4 linked regions of the Homo sapiens genome follow. The protein of the gene in region 4 interacts with the protein of the main gene of each other region in a biochemical or structural test. Each region holds a gene or a part of one and is shown on either strand. Other genes may lie near its edges. The genes, in order: CSPG4, SDC3, DCN and FGF2.

What was found.
Region 1: the proteins of FGF2 (region 4) and CSPG4 form a complex in vitro, tested with the Homo sapiens proteins (one study listed by BioGRID).
Region 2: the proteins of FGF2 (region 4) and SDC3 form a complex in vitro, tested with the Homo sapiens proteins (one study listed by BioGRID).
Region 3: the proteins of FGF2 (region 4) and DCN form a complex in vitro, tested with the Homo sapiens proteins (one study listed by IntAct).

Annotation. Positions count from the first base shown.
Region 1 is NC_000015.10:75,702,817-75,706,431, reverse strand, and holds part of CSPG4 (chondroitin sulfate proteoglycan 4 precursor), read left to right. Parts: intron 1-3,615. UniProt on the Homo sapiens protein: Proteoglycan playing a role in cell proliferation and migration which stimulates endothelial cells motility during microvascular morphogenesis. May also inhibit neurite outgrowth and growth cone collapse during axon regeneration.
Region 2 is NC_000001.11:30,877,668-30,881,282, reverse strand, and holds part of SDC3 (syndecan-3), read left to right. Parts: intron 1-1,192; exon of another isoform or gene 1,193-2,342; coding exon of another isoform or gene 2,343-2,354; intron 2,355-2,542; coding exon 2,543-2,660; intron 2,661-3,615. UniProt on the Homo sapiens protein: Cell surface proteoglycan that may bear heparan sulfate. May have a role in the organization of cell shape by affecting the actin cytoskeleton, possibly by transferring signals from the cell surface in a sugar-dependent mechanism.
Region 3 is NC_000012.12:91,139,937-91,142,468, reverse strand, and holds the end of DCN (decorin isoform a preproprotein), read left to right. Parts: 3' UTR 1-1,985; downstream 1,986-2,532. UniProt on the Homo sapiens protein: May affect the rate of fibrils formation.
Region 4 is NC_000004.12:122,825,872-122,829,902, forward strand, and holds the start of FGF2 (fibroblast growth factor 2 isoform 18 kDa), read left to right. Parts: upstream 1-1,303; coding exon 1,304-1,481; intron 1,482-4,031. UniProt on the Homo sapiens protein: Acts as a ligand for FGFR1, FGFR2, FGFR3 and FGFR4. Also acts as an integrin ligand which is required for FGF2 signaling. Binds to integrin ITGAV:ITGB3.

The sequences.
Region 1 (3,615 bases), on a different chromosome or scaffold from region 4:
CATACACATTCACACACACATACATACACTCACACATACACACTCACACACACGCAGTATTGCTCAGTAGGCAAGGAGAGTGTCCTGCCCCGAGCCAGCAGCCCCAGGGAAAACCCCCAAAATCAGGACACAGTGCCTCGTTCCCCCGCCAGGGCAGGCCCTCTGGCCTGGGCCAGTCCACTCTCTGGGGAGACAGAGGGGGCTGGGGAGAGGAGACGAACTTCCGTTCCCACCTAAGAGCAGCCCCTTCCCCCACCCACATTTCAGGAAGGGGCAGCTATAAATACCAGTGGGACCAGGACACTGATTCCCACGACACCCGCTTCTCCCTGCCCCTTCCCTGTGCACAGTTGCTGGGGCCAGACCAGCTCTCCTGCAGCTAGAGTCCAGCCAGGCAGGCCTGAGGCCTAGCCACACACACACAGAGACACAGACATACGCACACAGGCACACACAGACATAGATACACACAGACATACAGACACAGACACATGCACACAGACACACATACGCACACACACACGCACACAGACATATACACACAGGCACAGACACACACATATGCACACAGACACATACAGACACAGATACACACACACACTTTTACTTCCCACCCTGGTCAAGGAGGAGCAAATCACCCTTTTTGGGAGTCTGCGAGCAGCTGAGAGGGAGCCCCTCCCCTGCCCCTCAGCCCTGACCCAGGCCCCATCTCTCCCTCCTCTGAGTCCTGAGCTGTGGGAACCCACACAGGGAAGCAGGAGGCCAGGCACATGGTGGTGAAACACGGCATTAGAGAGCTCAGGTTGAATTCCAGCCCTGACGCTCTATGCATGACCTTGGGCAAGTGACTCTGTCTTTCTGAGCCTCAGTTTTCTCCTCTCTAAAATGGGGATAAATAATTCCAACCTCTTACGTGTTGTAAGGATTAAGCAAGACACTTTGCCTGGAATCAATGCTCGGTGGACATCTGCTCCTGAAGCTGCAGTCACTCTGCTATTAGCATCTTCTTCCCAGGGTGGAGTGGCCCGGCAACATGGGGACTTCTGCTTAGGAGTGTTTAAGGAAGATTCCGAGGCAAAGGCCTAGAGGAGGTGGCCCCGTGAGTCTGTGTGGGACTAAGTGACATGGAAAAGGAGAGGTGGGCTCTGGAGAGGGTATCAGCCAGCGGCTGCCTGCCAGCCCAGGACCCTTCAGAAGGTGGGAGGGGGTGGGGGTCTGCATCTCTGTGGCTAACTGGGCTGAGGCCCACACCCCTCTCTCAGTGCTAGAAGAAGTGGGGACAGCCCCTGCCTGGCCCTCCCCAGGGCCTGTTTCTCCCAAGCCTAACAGCCCCTAGGATGGGGCTCACTGGGCCGGGGCACAGCAGGAACCCCCTGTCCCCAGAGCAGGTGAGTGAGGAGAAGAGAATGAGCAGGCCCCAAGACCTTTTATGGGACGGGGACCCTAGAAGCCTGTCTTTTCCCTGCTCTCTACCAACCCCTCGCGAGTCCCTCTCTGGAGGTGGGGGCTGGAGGCCAGGGCCCAGGGACGTGGGACAGCTCACCTGCCAGAGTCACCATGGGGCTGTTACCACCACTCATGATATAAGCAGTGGTGGCTGCATCACGAGGAGCAGAAATCCGGACTGAGGGAGGGGACAGCCCTCTCCGCTCTGGGCTGCTAGGACCCCTCAGTGGTATGGGTGTATGTGAGCTCAGAGTAGGGGGAGGTGTGGGGAGGTGACTGAGGTGACTGCAGAGTGGGGTGCACAGCTCGGGGCAGGGACACTGGAGGGACCCCGGACAAGGGCAGGCCTGTGCCTGAGCCCTCAGGGCAAGATCCCATTGTGCAGGCCCCCACTGCCTTCACCCACGTAGAGGTGACTCTTCTCCACAGACCCCTGGACAGGGCCCGGCCAGGCCCCCCACCCACATGTTTTAATGGAATCCAGGTGGCTGCCCCTGGCCAAGGTTCCATCTCTGGGCATCTGGGGCCCGTGTGCTTCTGGCCACCCATCTGGAGCCTGGCTGAGCCCCTCCAGGGGTGGGTACTCAGACGGGGGCTGTCCCTCCAACCGTGGACAGCCCTGGGGCCAGCGAGATATTGTAGAGGCCTGAGCCAGCTGGCTGATGGTGCCACAGCCCTTGGGCTACCTGGCCCTGCTATGTGGCCTTGGGGAGACCCCTGGCCCTATCTGGGCCTCTGGGTGGAATCTTCAGTCTCCTAGGTCAGCTCTAAATTCTGAGCTTGAGCCTCTTGGGAACAGGACAGGGGCCTCTGCCTCTATCTAGAGAGAGCCAGCTGCTTGTCCTGGGCCAAGCAGCAAGGCAGGCTAGGCCTGGAATGGGGCTGAGAAGCAGCCCAGCCTGCCAGGACTCCCTGGCATTGGAAAGCCACTTTCCTAAGTTGGCATGGAGCCCTGGGGCTCCCCCCGGGATGAGAGCAGCGGCTCCTCTCCACCCCCGGCTCCCATCTTCCACCCCCTGGCCCCAGCCCCGCCCTGCCAAAAATAAACCCAGACCACCCCATCTTGTACCAGCCAGACCCACCCAGCCCCTCCAGAGCCAATTGAGTCACCACTCAGAGCTGCTCCTTTTTTAACTGTCTGAGTCACTGCTTGTGGCTCCATGACACATGCCCCAGGCTACGGTTACCCCACAGCCCCTACAAGCGCAGCCAAGGGAGGGGTCTGCGTAGAGGCTGGCAGCAGGTGTGAGTCCAGGCCATAGCCTTAGCTTGTGAGCCCTCCAGGCCTAGGGAACTCACTCCATAACAAGCCAGAGACCAGACCTGTCCCTCAAGGTCCCGGCCGTGCCCAAGACAGCCCTTGGGGATCTTGGTGACAAGGTCAATCTGGGCTCTGCCCCACCGCATTGCGTTGCCTCCAACAGGCCTGGGCCTTCCCCGTGGAGACTGCCGGGAACGGAGGGTCTCCAGCCCCTAGACCCTGGAGGCTGGGGGTGGGCGAGGCCACAGAGACGCCTGCTTCCTCCCTCCTCACCGGCTCCACCCGGACTCTGACCACGCTGCCTGGAGCACCATGAAGACTCTATGGGACGGAAGCCACACTTCAGTCTCCCCTCACGGCTTCTGTCTGCCCCTGCGCAGGGTCACCCGGGCTGCAGAGCACCCCCGATCTCTCAGTCCATCCCCCCATCCCGCTCTCTCCATCTCTCTGTCCTTTCCCACCCCTGGCTGTGGTTCCTCCATCTCTTTCTGTCTGTCTTTCCTACCCTGTCTCTCTGTCTGTCTGCCCATCTCTCCAGTCCTGCTCTGTTCTCCTTCCCTTCTCCTTTACCGGGTTCCACGGCAGTCAGAAGTGCTCCCTGCCGCCAGCACCCCACCCGTCCCCAGGGCCCTCTCTGCCTTCTCAGTAGACATAACAGACCCTCACCTCCTCCCATTCCCACAAGGGACTCTGGGCCCCAGGGACCAATCCTGAGAAATGTTCCGCTCCCCTCACCAGGTCCTCCCGTGCCCCAAAGTGCAGGCTACATCCTGTCCCAGGGAGTGTCAGGATCCCACAGGCACTTCCTTGGGGGTTGACAAAGGCGGGCAGGGGGGCCTGGGAATGGCCCCACCTCCCAGTCCATGCTAGAGCAGGGGCCTGTAAGCCTCAAACCCCATCCGTCTTCT
Region 2 (3,615 bases), on a different chromosome or scaffold from region 4:
GGAGTGTGTGTGTGTGTCTGTGAGTACCCTAGGGCATGTGTACAGGCAGCTAGGGGTGAAGTAGATGGGTGAGTGTGTGCTGGTGTGGGCTGGGCTGTATTGCCTATAGGCTGTGGTGAGTATACAGATTGGTGTGGGCAAACATTGCACTTAATAGTGTGTGTGTGTATCCATTGGGGTGCATAGTACATGCAGAAGAATATATATGCATGAGGATGTTGGGCTGTCGTGTGTGTGTGTGTGTGTGTGTGTGTGCATGCGTGCGCGCGTGTCTTGGGGGTATGGAAGCCTCCTATCAGGCATGGGGGGGTTGTGTTTACCTGGAGGGGGCACAGTGAGGGTCAAGGAGAAGCTGGCAGCGTCCTGGGGCTTTTGGATTCAGTTCTCCTTTAAGGGAATGGCATGGATAATTATGCTTATTATGATGGATTATGCAAATGCGGAGGTCGTTTGGGGGTCAAAGCCTGCTTGTCACCCTCCTCCTCAGGCATTCTGTGACTTCTAAGGCTTTCCCTGCTGCCTCCCAGGCTCCGTTCCCCAACCCCTATTTCTCTGTCCCCTCTGGGAGTTGCAGCTACCAGCACCCCCTCTGTAGTGTTCCTGAGAGGGCCTCATGAGTCCCAGCGCCCATGCCTGCAGGTCCCAGGTGTCCTCGCATTAAGTTCCCGCTGAGCATCCCAGGTGGGCTCAGGGGTGACTGGGCCGTTCCTCCCCCTGCACACCCTGCCATTGGGGATGCTTGCTGTTCGGAAAGAATGTACTCTTGGAAGCAGGTTTGGAAAATTACTGAGGTGGCCCCTTCCCCAGCCTTGCCTCATCAGCATGAGGCTAAATTAGGATGTGTGAGTTCTCCCCTCTGCCTCCCACCCTTGCCTTCTCTCCTTCTCTCGTACCCCCAGCCCACCCTCCCCGTCTCTGCCCCTCTGCCCCCTGGCCTCCCTCAGTCCTCGACTCTCTGTCACCGTCTCTGTCTCTGCCTCCCCCTTCCCTGTCATCCTCTCAGTTCCCCCGTGATCTCTCCCTCTCCTGTACCACCCCATCTCTGTGGGGAGCTGCAGCTCCTGGTCGTTAGCATGGAGAAGATGGTCGTCATGGTAACGGTTGTCATGTCGATGGCTACTGAGCTGGGGATGAATAGTATGTAGGTGAGCGCTACCTGAGTGGAGGCTGATGGGTTTCCAGGAGGCTCGATGCTTGTCTCTGAGCTCAGAGCTGCACAGCAGGCCCAGCTCCTCCTGCCCCATGTGAGTGGCTGTTTTTACCCCCAGGCATGCTGACACGCTGAGCCCTCTGTGGCTGCTTTTAGGTGAGCATGTTTCAGTGTGTGTCTGTGCATGTGCTGTGTCTCTGGGGTGTGTCATTTCAAGGGTCTATGTGGCATGGGGGTAGGTCTTTGGGTTTGTACAGGCTTTTCTTGGAGCAGGAAGTTAGGGGCTAAGTGGCACTGGTCACTGAGGAATCTTGGGGACTCCCTTGTTTTGGCACCCACATTTACTTCAGTTGGGGGCTTCCAGGGACCACAGACCTCTTAGTATCCCTCCTCCCAGCTAAAGGCCTCCCAGCCACTGCCCAGCCTACTGGGAAGGATAGAAAGACAGTGAAGACAGCCCTGGGCAGGGGCAGGAGCCGGAGCCTGGGTCCCTGCTCAGTCCCCATTCTTCTGTGTGACTTCAGGCTGCTTGCCAGAGAGCTGGAGGGAGCAGGGACTCCAGGTTGGCTGGTTCAGGTTGTGGAGGGGAGTGCCATGGGGAGTTCTAGCTCCTCCACCGTGGGTATTTTTCTTTCTGGGCAGAGGGGAGCTGGGGAAAAGTTGGGCCCTACTGCTCTGAGCTCCTAGAATGTTTAAAAAAGGAGGAAGACCCAGCAATTCGTCACGGGAGAAATTACACTAATTGTTCCACTCCATGACTCACTGGTAGAAAGTAAATACTGATTAATTCATTACTTTGAGACTATGTGTGTGTGTGCATTTTGTGAGGGGGCACCTCCTGGCTCCCTGCCCTGGCTGGGCTGGGCAGGGCTCTGGAGCAGGTGGTTGAGGCTGGGGATATGAAGACAGGATTGAGATCCTCACTCTGGCTCTGTATCAACTCCAGAAGGGGGCCCATCAGTGGCAGGGGGTGAGAGGCTGGGCCCCAAATGCAGGGCCATTCCAGCCCTCGCCTGCTCACACATGCCCCAGGGCTCCCCACAGCCAGCCCAACATTGCGGCTGCTCAGAGACCACCCCAGACCTACTGAACCACTGAATTTAGTTTTCACAATATTCAGATGTGCAGTCAAGATGAAAAATGACCAGTTTCTAAGAGAAAGTCATCAGCCAGACACTGAAAGCCTTCTGGGATGGGACCCCAGGTGACTTGCCACACCCCACCCCTGCCCTGTGAATTATTCACACACGCACTTTCCTTCAGGGTACACACAAGATCTCTGTCACCCACGTGGATGTCACTCAGCCCACAAGGGCACCTGTCGCCCTTCTGGGCTCACCCAGGCTGCCAGTCTCGGGTGCCGAGCCCTGTGTCCACCTCTACCTTCCCTAGGCCCAGCGCTGGCGCAGTGAGAACTTCGAGAGACCCGTGGACCTGGAGGGCTCTGGGGATGATGACTCCTTTCCCGATGATGAACTGGATGACCTCTACTCGGGGTCGGGCTCGGGCTGTAAGTACCCCCCTCCCTACCTCTGCCTGGGGGCAGTGACCAGTCTGTATCCAGCCTCAACTCTGAGAAGCCCACGGGGGGCTTGCTTCAGTGAGGCAGGGGGCATTCACTGCCTGGGTCAGGCAAGTTCTTCTTGCTCTGGATCCCCAGAACAAGAAGGGCAGAACATCCTTCTGGGGATAGAACAAGACCTGGGAGGACCTCAGGGCCCAGAATGTCCAGGTCTCCAGGGTCCCACGTCTGCATCTTTGTGTGTGCTATGTGGCTTTCTCTGCAGACCTTGCTTGGTTCCGGTGGTCCCGTCAGGTGCAATAAGCTGTGGCCAATGGTGGGGTTAGGGCAGTGATGACACAGGGCAGGTGCTTCAAGTGGTGCCTGGGATGGCCCCGCCCTGGGGAAGGGGAGCCAGGTCAGCTGGGTCTAGCAGAATCTCGGGAGAGAAGGGCACCGCGAACCCCACTCTGCCATGTAGCAACTGTGTGCCCCTCGGTGCTCCCCCTCCCTGAATCCCTGTATTTTCACCTGTGGATGGTGAGAAATACGACTTCTTCTCAGTGCCTCTAGGAGGGTTTGGGATAGGAAGCTGGGGTCTGGCACAGAGGAGGAGCTCTCAAAATGGTAGCAAAAAGAAGGCAGCTGAGACTGGGCCCAGTGAGGGCACGGGCTGGCATCTGAGGAGATGGTACGGGGTCTGCACGCCACAGAGCTGGCTCCCCACAGCCCTCGCCTCTGGTCTCCCCTCCTTAGCCAAGTCCTTTGAGCCTCTTTCAAATTAATCTTTGTAAAACCCGTTTATATTGGGTCACATCTCTATTCGCAAAGTTCCCTGGCTCCCCTCCCTCCTGCCTGGTTCCGAGCCCAGGAGCTGGCTGTGGCTTCTCCCTCCCCCATCCCCTACTCCCCATCTCATTTCCTCCCAAGTTCCTTCACTGTCCCGGCTTTGCGTCAGCCAGAT
Region 3 (2,532 bases), on a different chromosome or scaffold from region 4:
TTTCCAAGAAACTGGTTTATTCCACAATTTTATTGCAGAGGCAGCTGCAGGATATCATAATCTTATCTTTATACGAAGGAAGAATTGCCTAATCCCTCAAGTAAACTAAAAATGTTTTATACAGTCATTTCTCATTCATCCAATGTTCCAGGCAGTCCCAGTCCAAGACTGCCCCTTCACACACACAACAACTCTTCACAAGACTTCACTGTCCTTCAGACTCTCCTGCAGCACAGACATTCGAGGTTGCTGAGTCGACATTGCAGTTATTTCACTCTTGATTTTGCTGCTCAATTTTAAGTTTCCACACTTATTGCTAAAACATTCCTTCTAGTGGATCTGTTTATGTATTCAAGCACACCATCTGTCACAATTATTTCAAATCACAGGTCTGTGACAGACTGTCAATTTCACACCACAAAGTATAATAGTGGAAAACAAAGTAAAATCAAGAAAGGGAGAACACTAAACTTATTAAAACCATATACAAGCATACGCATTCAGGAAACTAAAACAACCTTCAAAGAAGTTGAACAATTTTGAGCCAAAAGAAAGGGCATATGCACACCCTACCCCAGTATAAGATAACCAGAAAAGGACTGGGTGAGTTGCCTCCTGAGTATTATGACTGCCATCAATCACTTAGGCATTGGAGATCAGGAGACTCTTCCCAGGCCACACATTCTGCAGTGACTGTGAGGGCTGAATGAATGCTTCCAGGCCATCAGGAACAAGCATAGAAACACAAATCAATTTTAAAATACACTCAAAAATGTCAAAATAATCCAACTTTTTTGTCTTGATCAGATATATCTACTAGCACATATTACTTCATTTTTTCAGCCAATATTTATTAATAACCTACTGTGTGCTTGACAGTGTTCTAGTGGCAGAGACACAGCAGTGCATAATGCCTTGCCCTCTGAAGCAGATGTTGCAGCAGGAGGAGACATTCCAGGACATGACAATTAAAGTGGAGGAATGTCAAGCAGAACTGGGGAATAAGGGATGTGAAGGGGGTGAGACTTGCTATTTTATATAGGATGGTCGGAAAAAGGACTTATCAGGAGTGACATTTGAGCAGGGAGATGAAGAACTGAAGGGAGCAAGCCAAGAAAAGAGGCCCTGAATTTGGAAAATACATGGCACGTTCCAACAAGAGCAGAGAGGACAAACGTGAGCAGAGTAAAGTGAGCAAGAAGAGATAATATATGATACAAGGTCAGAAAGGTAATGACAATCGCATCCTGTAGGACTTTTTAGGCCATTGTAAAGATGAGCTTTTACTCTGAGTAAGACAGAGAGCTATTAGAGGGGTCTCGGTAGAGGAGTGACTTGATTCAACTGTCTTTGAGAGGATCCCTTTGCGTGTATAGACTGTAAGGTAACAGGAATAGGCCAAGAGAGAATATTTCGGATGCTAGTGCAATAATCAGGTGAGAGATGATGAAGACTTTGACCTGGATAATAGTAGAAAAATTGTTGAGAAGGGATCAAAATATGGGGTTTGTTTTGATGGTAGAGAGGCCAGGGATGGCTGAATGATCAGATGGGGCATGAGAGAGAAAGAAAAGAAACAGAGATGACTTCAGGAATTTTGGCCTGGGCCACTGGAAGGATGAAGTCACCATTTACTGAGATGGTAATGACTGGGAGGTTGAGCTGGAAGAACTGAGAATCAAATATCTGGTTTTGAATCTGTTCTTTTTGAGATGCATATTCAACTTCCATATGGAGGTGTCAAGGAGGATTTAGATCTAGAATTTTGGAGCTCAAGGGAAAGGGTTGAGCTGTAGACATAAATTCTAGAGATGCCGGAATATAGATTGTGATCCTTCTTTATCAGCACAGAAATGACTTGACTTTGTCCAAACTAAGCAATCATACTGTACATGTTAGCAACACATTTTACAGGGCCAATTTGGCCTTTTGCAATGTTCTGTGGTTTCTAAGATAAATAAACATATTATATGTTTCCCTCTGGATGCCTTTGCTATGATCCTGTCAGCATTTCCAAAACAGTTCTTGCTTGAACACCACCAAGGAAAGAAAAAAACCTCTTGAGAAAGAAATCATTGTTTTTTTTTTTTTTTTTTTAAATCCCTGTGTTTTGGCTTATGAGTTTAAAACTTACAAAAACAGTCTAGTTTCTGTTTTCTTCAAGAATTCACATTAACAAAAGTGTGGCTTGGTGCCTGTTTTGAATGTGAGTTGATAACTTGCTGGTGGTTTGACAGTTATAAACAAACAGTCTTATAGCATAAAGAAAGCATATTCCTGAAACTGCAGGAGGTCTCATTGAGCCTCAGGCACTATACCAGCATGTTTAACTAGAAAATCATGAAAACACATACAACTTCTATAGCTAAGGCCATTTTTACATGGAATTGCAGCATAAAATGACTCCATCTAATTCTGTAAAAGTTTATATTGATGACTACTTTATAAAGCACCCATATTGCCACTTGGTCTGACAAAGATATGTGAAAAATATAAAAAATTTCTTGAAGTAATTTATTTTTCCCCCTCTTT
Region 4 (4,031 bases):
CATTATGTGTTGCACACAGTAGGTACTCAATACATGCAAGTTTTCTGAATAGATATTTTCCTAGTCATCTGTGGCACCTGCTATATCCTACTGAAAATTACCAAAATGCAATTAACTTCAATTTTACATTTGGGATTTACAGAAAATAACTCTCTCTCCAAGAAATGCATAACAATTTAGCTAGGGCAAATGCCAGGTCCGAGTTAAGACATTAATGCGCTTCGATCGCGATAAGGATTTATCCTTATCCCCATCCTCATCTTTCTGCGTCGTCTAATTCAAGATAGGTCAGTAAAGGAAACCTTTTCGTTTTAGCAACCCAATCTGCTCCCCTTCTCTGGCCTCTTTCTCTCCTTTTGTTGGTAGACGACTTCAGCCTCTGTCCTTTAATTTTAAAGTTTATGCCCCACTTGTACCCCTCGTCTTTTGGTGATTTAGAGATTTTCAAAGCCTGCTCTGACACAGACTCTTCCTTGGATTGCAACTTCTCTACTTTGGGGTGGAAACGGCTTCTCCGTTTTGAAACGCTAGCGGGGAAAAAATGGGGGAGAAAGTTGAGTTTAAACTTTTAAAAGTTGAGTCACGGCTGGTTGCGCAGCAAAAGCCCCGCAGTGTGGAGAAAGCCTAAACGTGGTTTGGGTGGTGCGGGGGTTGGGCGGGGGTGACTTTTGGGGGATAAGGGGCGGTGGAGCCCAGGGAATGCCAAAGCCCTGCCGCGGCCTCCGACGCGCGCCCCCCGCCCCTCGCCTCTCCCCCGCCCCCGACTGAGGCCGGGCTCCCCGCCGGACTGATGTCGCGCGCTTGCGTGTTGTGGCCGAACCGCCGAACTCAGAGGCCGGCCCCAGAAAACCCGAGCGAGTAGGGGGCGGCGCGCAGGAGGGAGGAGAACTGGGGGCGCGGGAGGCTGGTGGGTGTGGGGGGTGGAGATGTAGAAGATGTGACGCCGCGGCCCGGCGGGTGCCAGATTAGCGGACGCGGTGCCCGCGGTTGCAACGGGATCCCGGGCGCTGCAGCTTGGGAGGCGGCTCTCCCCAGGCGGCGTCCGCGGAGACACCCATCCGTGAACCCCAGGTCCCGGGCCGCCGGCTCGCCGCGCACCAGGGGCCGGCGGACAGAAGAGCGGCCGAGCGGCTCGAGGCTGGGGGACCGCGGGCGCGGCCGCGCGCTGCCGGGCGGGAGGCTGGGGGGCCGGGGCCGGGGCCGTGCCCCGGAGCGGGTCGGAGGCCGGGGCCGGGGCCGGGGGACGGCGGCTCCCCGCGCGGCTCCAGCGGCTCGGGGATCCCGGCCGGGCCCCGCAGGGACCATGGCAGCCGGGAGCATCACCACGCTGCCCGCCTTGCCCGAGGATGGCGGCAGCGGCGCCTTCCCGCCCGGCCACTTCAAGGACCCCAAGCGGCTGTACTGCAAAAACGGGGGCTTCTTCCTGCGCATCCACCCCGACGGCCGAGTTGACGGGGTCCGGGAGAAGAGCGACCCTCACAGTGAGTGCCGACCCGCTCTCTCCGCCTCATTTCCATTTCGTGGGTTCTCGCCCGCTCTCTCCCCTCCAGCCTGCACCCTCCTCCCGGATCTTCACTGCGACCCTAGCGCTCCGTGTGGTTTCTGGCCGCGCGGCCCTCGGCGGTTTCGGGTTCACCACTCACCCCCTCCTTTCCGGGCTGCGGCGTAGGCCCGGGTGTCCCCTGGGCTTTGGGGTGTGCCAATTTGCCCTGTAAACCAGTACCCCCGGCCCGGAGCCGCGGCGCGCCGGGGCCTCGCGGACTGGCTGTCTTCCCGCGGACAACCTGTCGCGTCGGGGATGCCCGCGGCCCCGCCATGCAGCTCTGGCCGCTTCTATCTGCTGCGTGCTGTCCCGGGGACAAAGACAGGAAGGACCGCAGCAGAACGAAACGGTCTTTACTGGAAAAACACCTTTCTAGAGTCCTGCCCTTAAATTCCGACTCGGGACGACCCGAGGCATATGGCACACTACTCTCACCCACTCTGTTTTATATTTTTCCGAATTGACGAAAGCTGAAAGAGCAAAAACAAAAACCAACCAGCCAACCAGCAAAAAATCCAGATGTTGTTAATAAAGTGCCATAGCTTTGTTTCAGTAGTGAAAAGAAGTGCAAACACTTTAATCTTCCACCTGCAGTGACTAGCTTTGAGACCTTGAGCCGACGCTTAACCCCAGAGCCGGTTTCCTCATCGCTCACGTGGGGCTAATATATTACTACCTTGCAGCAGGCTTGAGGATGAAATGAGAATTGCAGTTTTGCTTTCTGTAAGAAACAATGTTTGTGGTTCTAGAAAGAACACTGGCCTAAATAAGGAGTGCTTGGACTTTAGGGGATTCCCTAAGTCTGGAGTGGGGGCTGAAGATTTGCATTTCTAACATGTTCCCCGGGGATGCTGATCACATCACACTTTGAGAGCCACTGGTCTAGAGGAAAGAGAAAGAAAGGGGCATAAGATGAGCCGATTTACAACACTGATGGAATTTGAAGTGAGAGAAAGAGGACTAGAATATATTGTAACCTGTCCTCCTGTAAGTGTATGTAAACATGTGTTTTAAAAGCTGTGTGTTATGGCGTTCCTTCCTTTATGGGTTCCAGGTGGAGAATCTGATTCTCTCATTGCCTGAGAAAAGACCCACAGGGGTCCCAGCGCCACTCCCCTGTAGTTCTGCCTTTGTCTTGGGATGCTAATGGGATGTCATGAGGGGAGGTGGAGGGGGGCTGGAAGAGAAGAAAATTCTACAACCAAACGTGAATTGGCAGAAGAATGGGCAATACACTTTCATATGAGCTGAGTCTTTATTGCTTCCAAAATAGCAACCTGCAAGAGAGGCAAGTATTTAATTTTTTTCAGGCTTGCCATAATTTAAAAATTTTATCAATCACTTAATCCCGTAAAACTGAAAAGATGCTTGTAACCTATTAGATGGGTTAGTGCTAGTTCTCTATTCTGGTAACTTGAACTCATCTATTTCAAAAAATTATCTTTGTGATTGAAGTTTGTTCTGCAGTTGTCTGCTACGCCATCTCAGCTGACAAGGGCAAGGTGCTGTGTGTCCCAATTGGTTTTGTTCTTTCTAGTATCACAAATTATTTATTAAAAAGCATGTATTATGACCAGAAGACAGAAGAATTTCCCTTTAAATTAAATTAATATTTGGGGCTTCCCCTAATACTCTTTTTTTTTCAGACTCTATTAGTTGCTGAATCATTTTTTCTTTGAAGATTTTGATACCCGATTCGCCTTAGAATAAAACTATGTAGAGGTTAGCCAGTGGACATAATTTTGAATTGCATACCACATTACCACCGTTGTAAAAACAACCGTTAACTTTTTCTTCCTAACTGTGAGTTGGGTTTTCATTTTTGTAATCTTACTTTAACTCTGTGGTTCTCAAATGGGGACGATTTTGCCTCCCAGGGGACATTTGACAATGCCTGGAGACATTTTTGGTTGCTGTAACCTGGAAGGGTGCTACTGGCATCTGGCAGGTAGAGGCCGGGGATGCTGCTGAACATCCTACAATACACATTATAATACCCTCAACAAAAACATTTTTGACCCCAAATGTCACTAGTACTCAGGTTGAGAACTCTGCTAACTTTATAACTAGCTAAGGACAAGACATTAAAAGGGAAATGTAGAATAACTCATCCAGACTTGTGGAGACTACCAATTTTTTTAAAATTTTTTATTTCTATAGGGTTTTAGGGACCAGGTGGTAGTTGGTTACATGAGTAAGTTCTTTAGTGGTGATTTGTGAAATTTTGTTGCACCCATCACCCAAGCAGTATACACTGAATCCAGTTTGTAGTCCTGTCCCTCCCCAACTTCCCACCCTTTCTTCCCAAGTCCCCAAAGAGACTACTCTTTTTTTAAAGGATACCTGTACCAGGCAATAGACTGACAAGAATACAAATCTAAAAATGACAAATTTCATCTATTTCTATGTAGCCCAACCTGGACATAAATTTAAGTACAGTATATTATTTTCTCACATATTGGATGTTTACTGATAGTTGACCAAACCA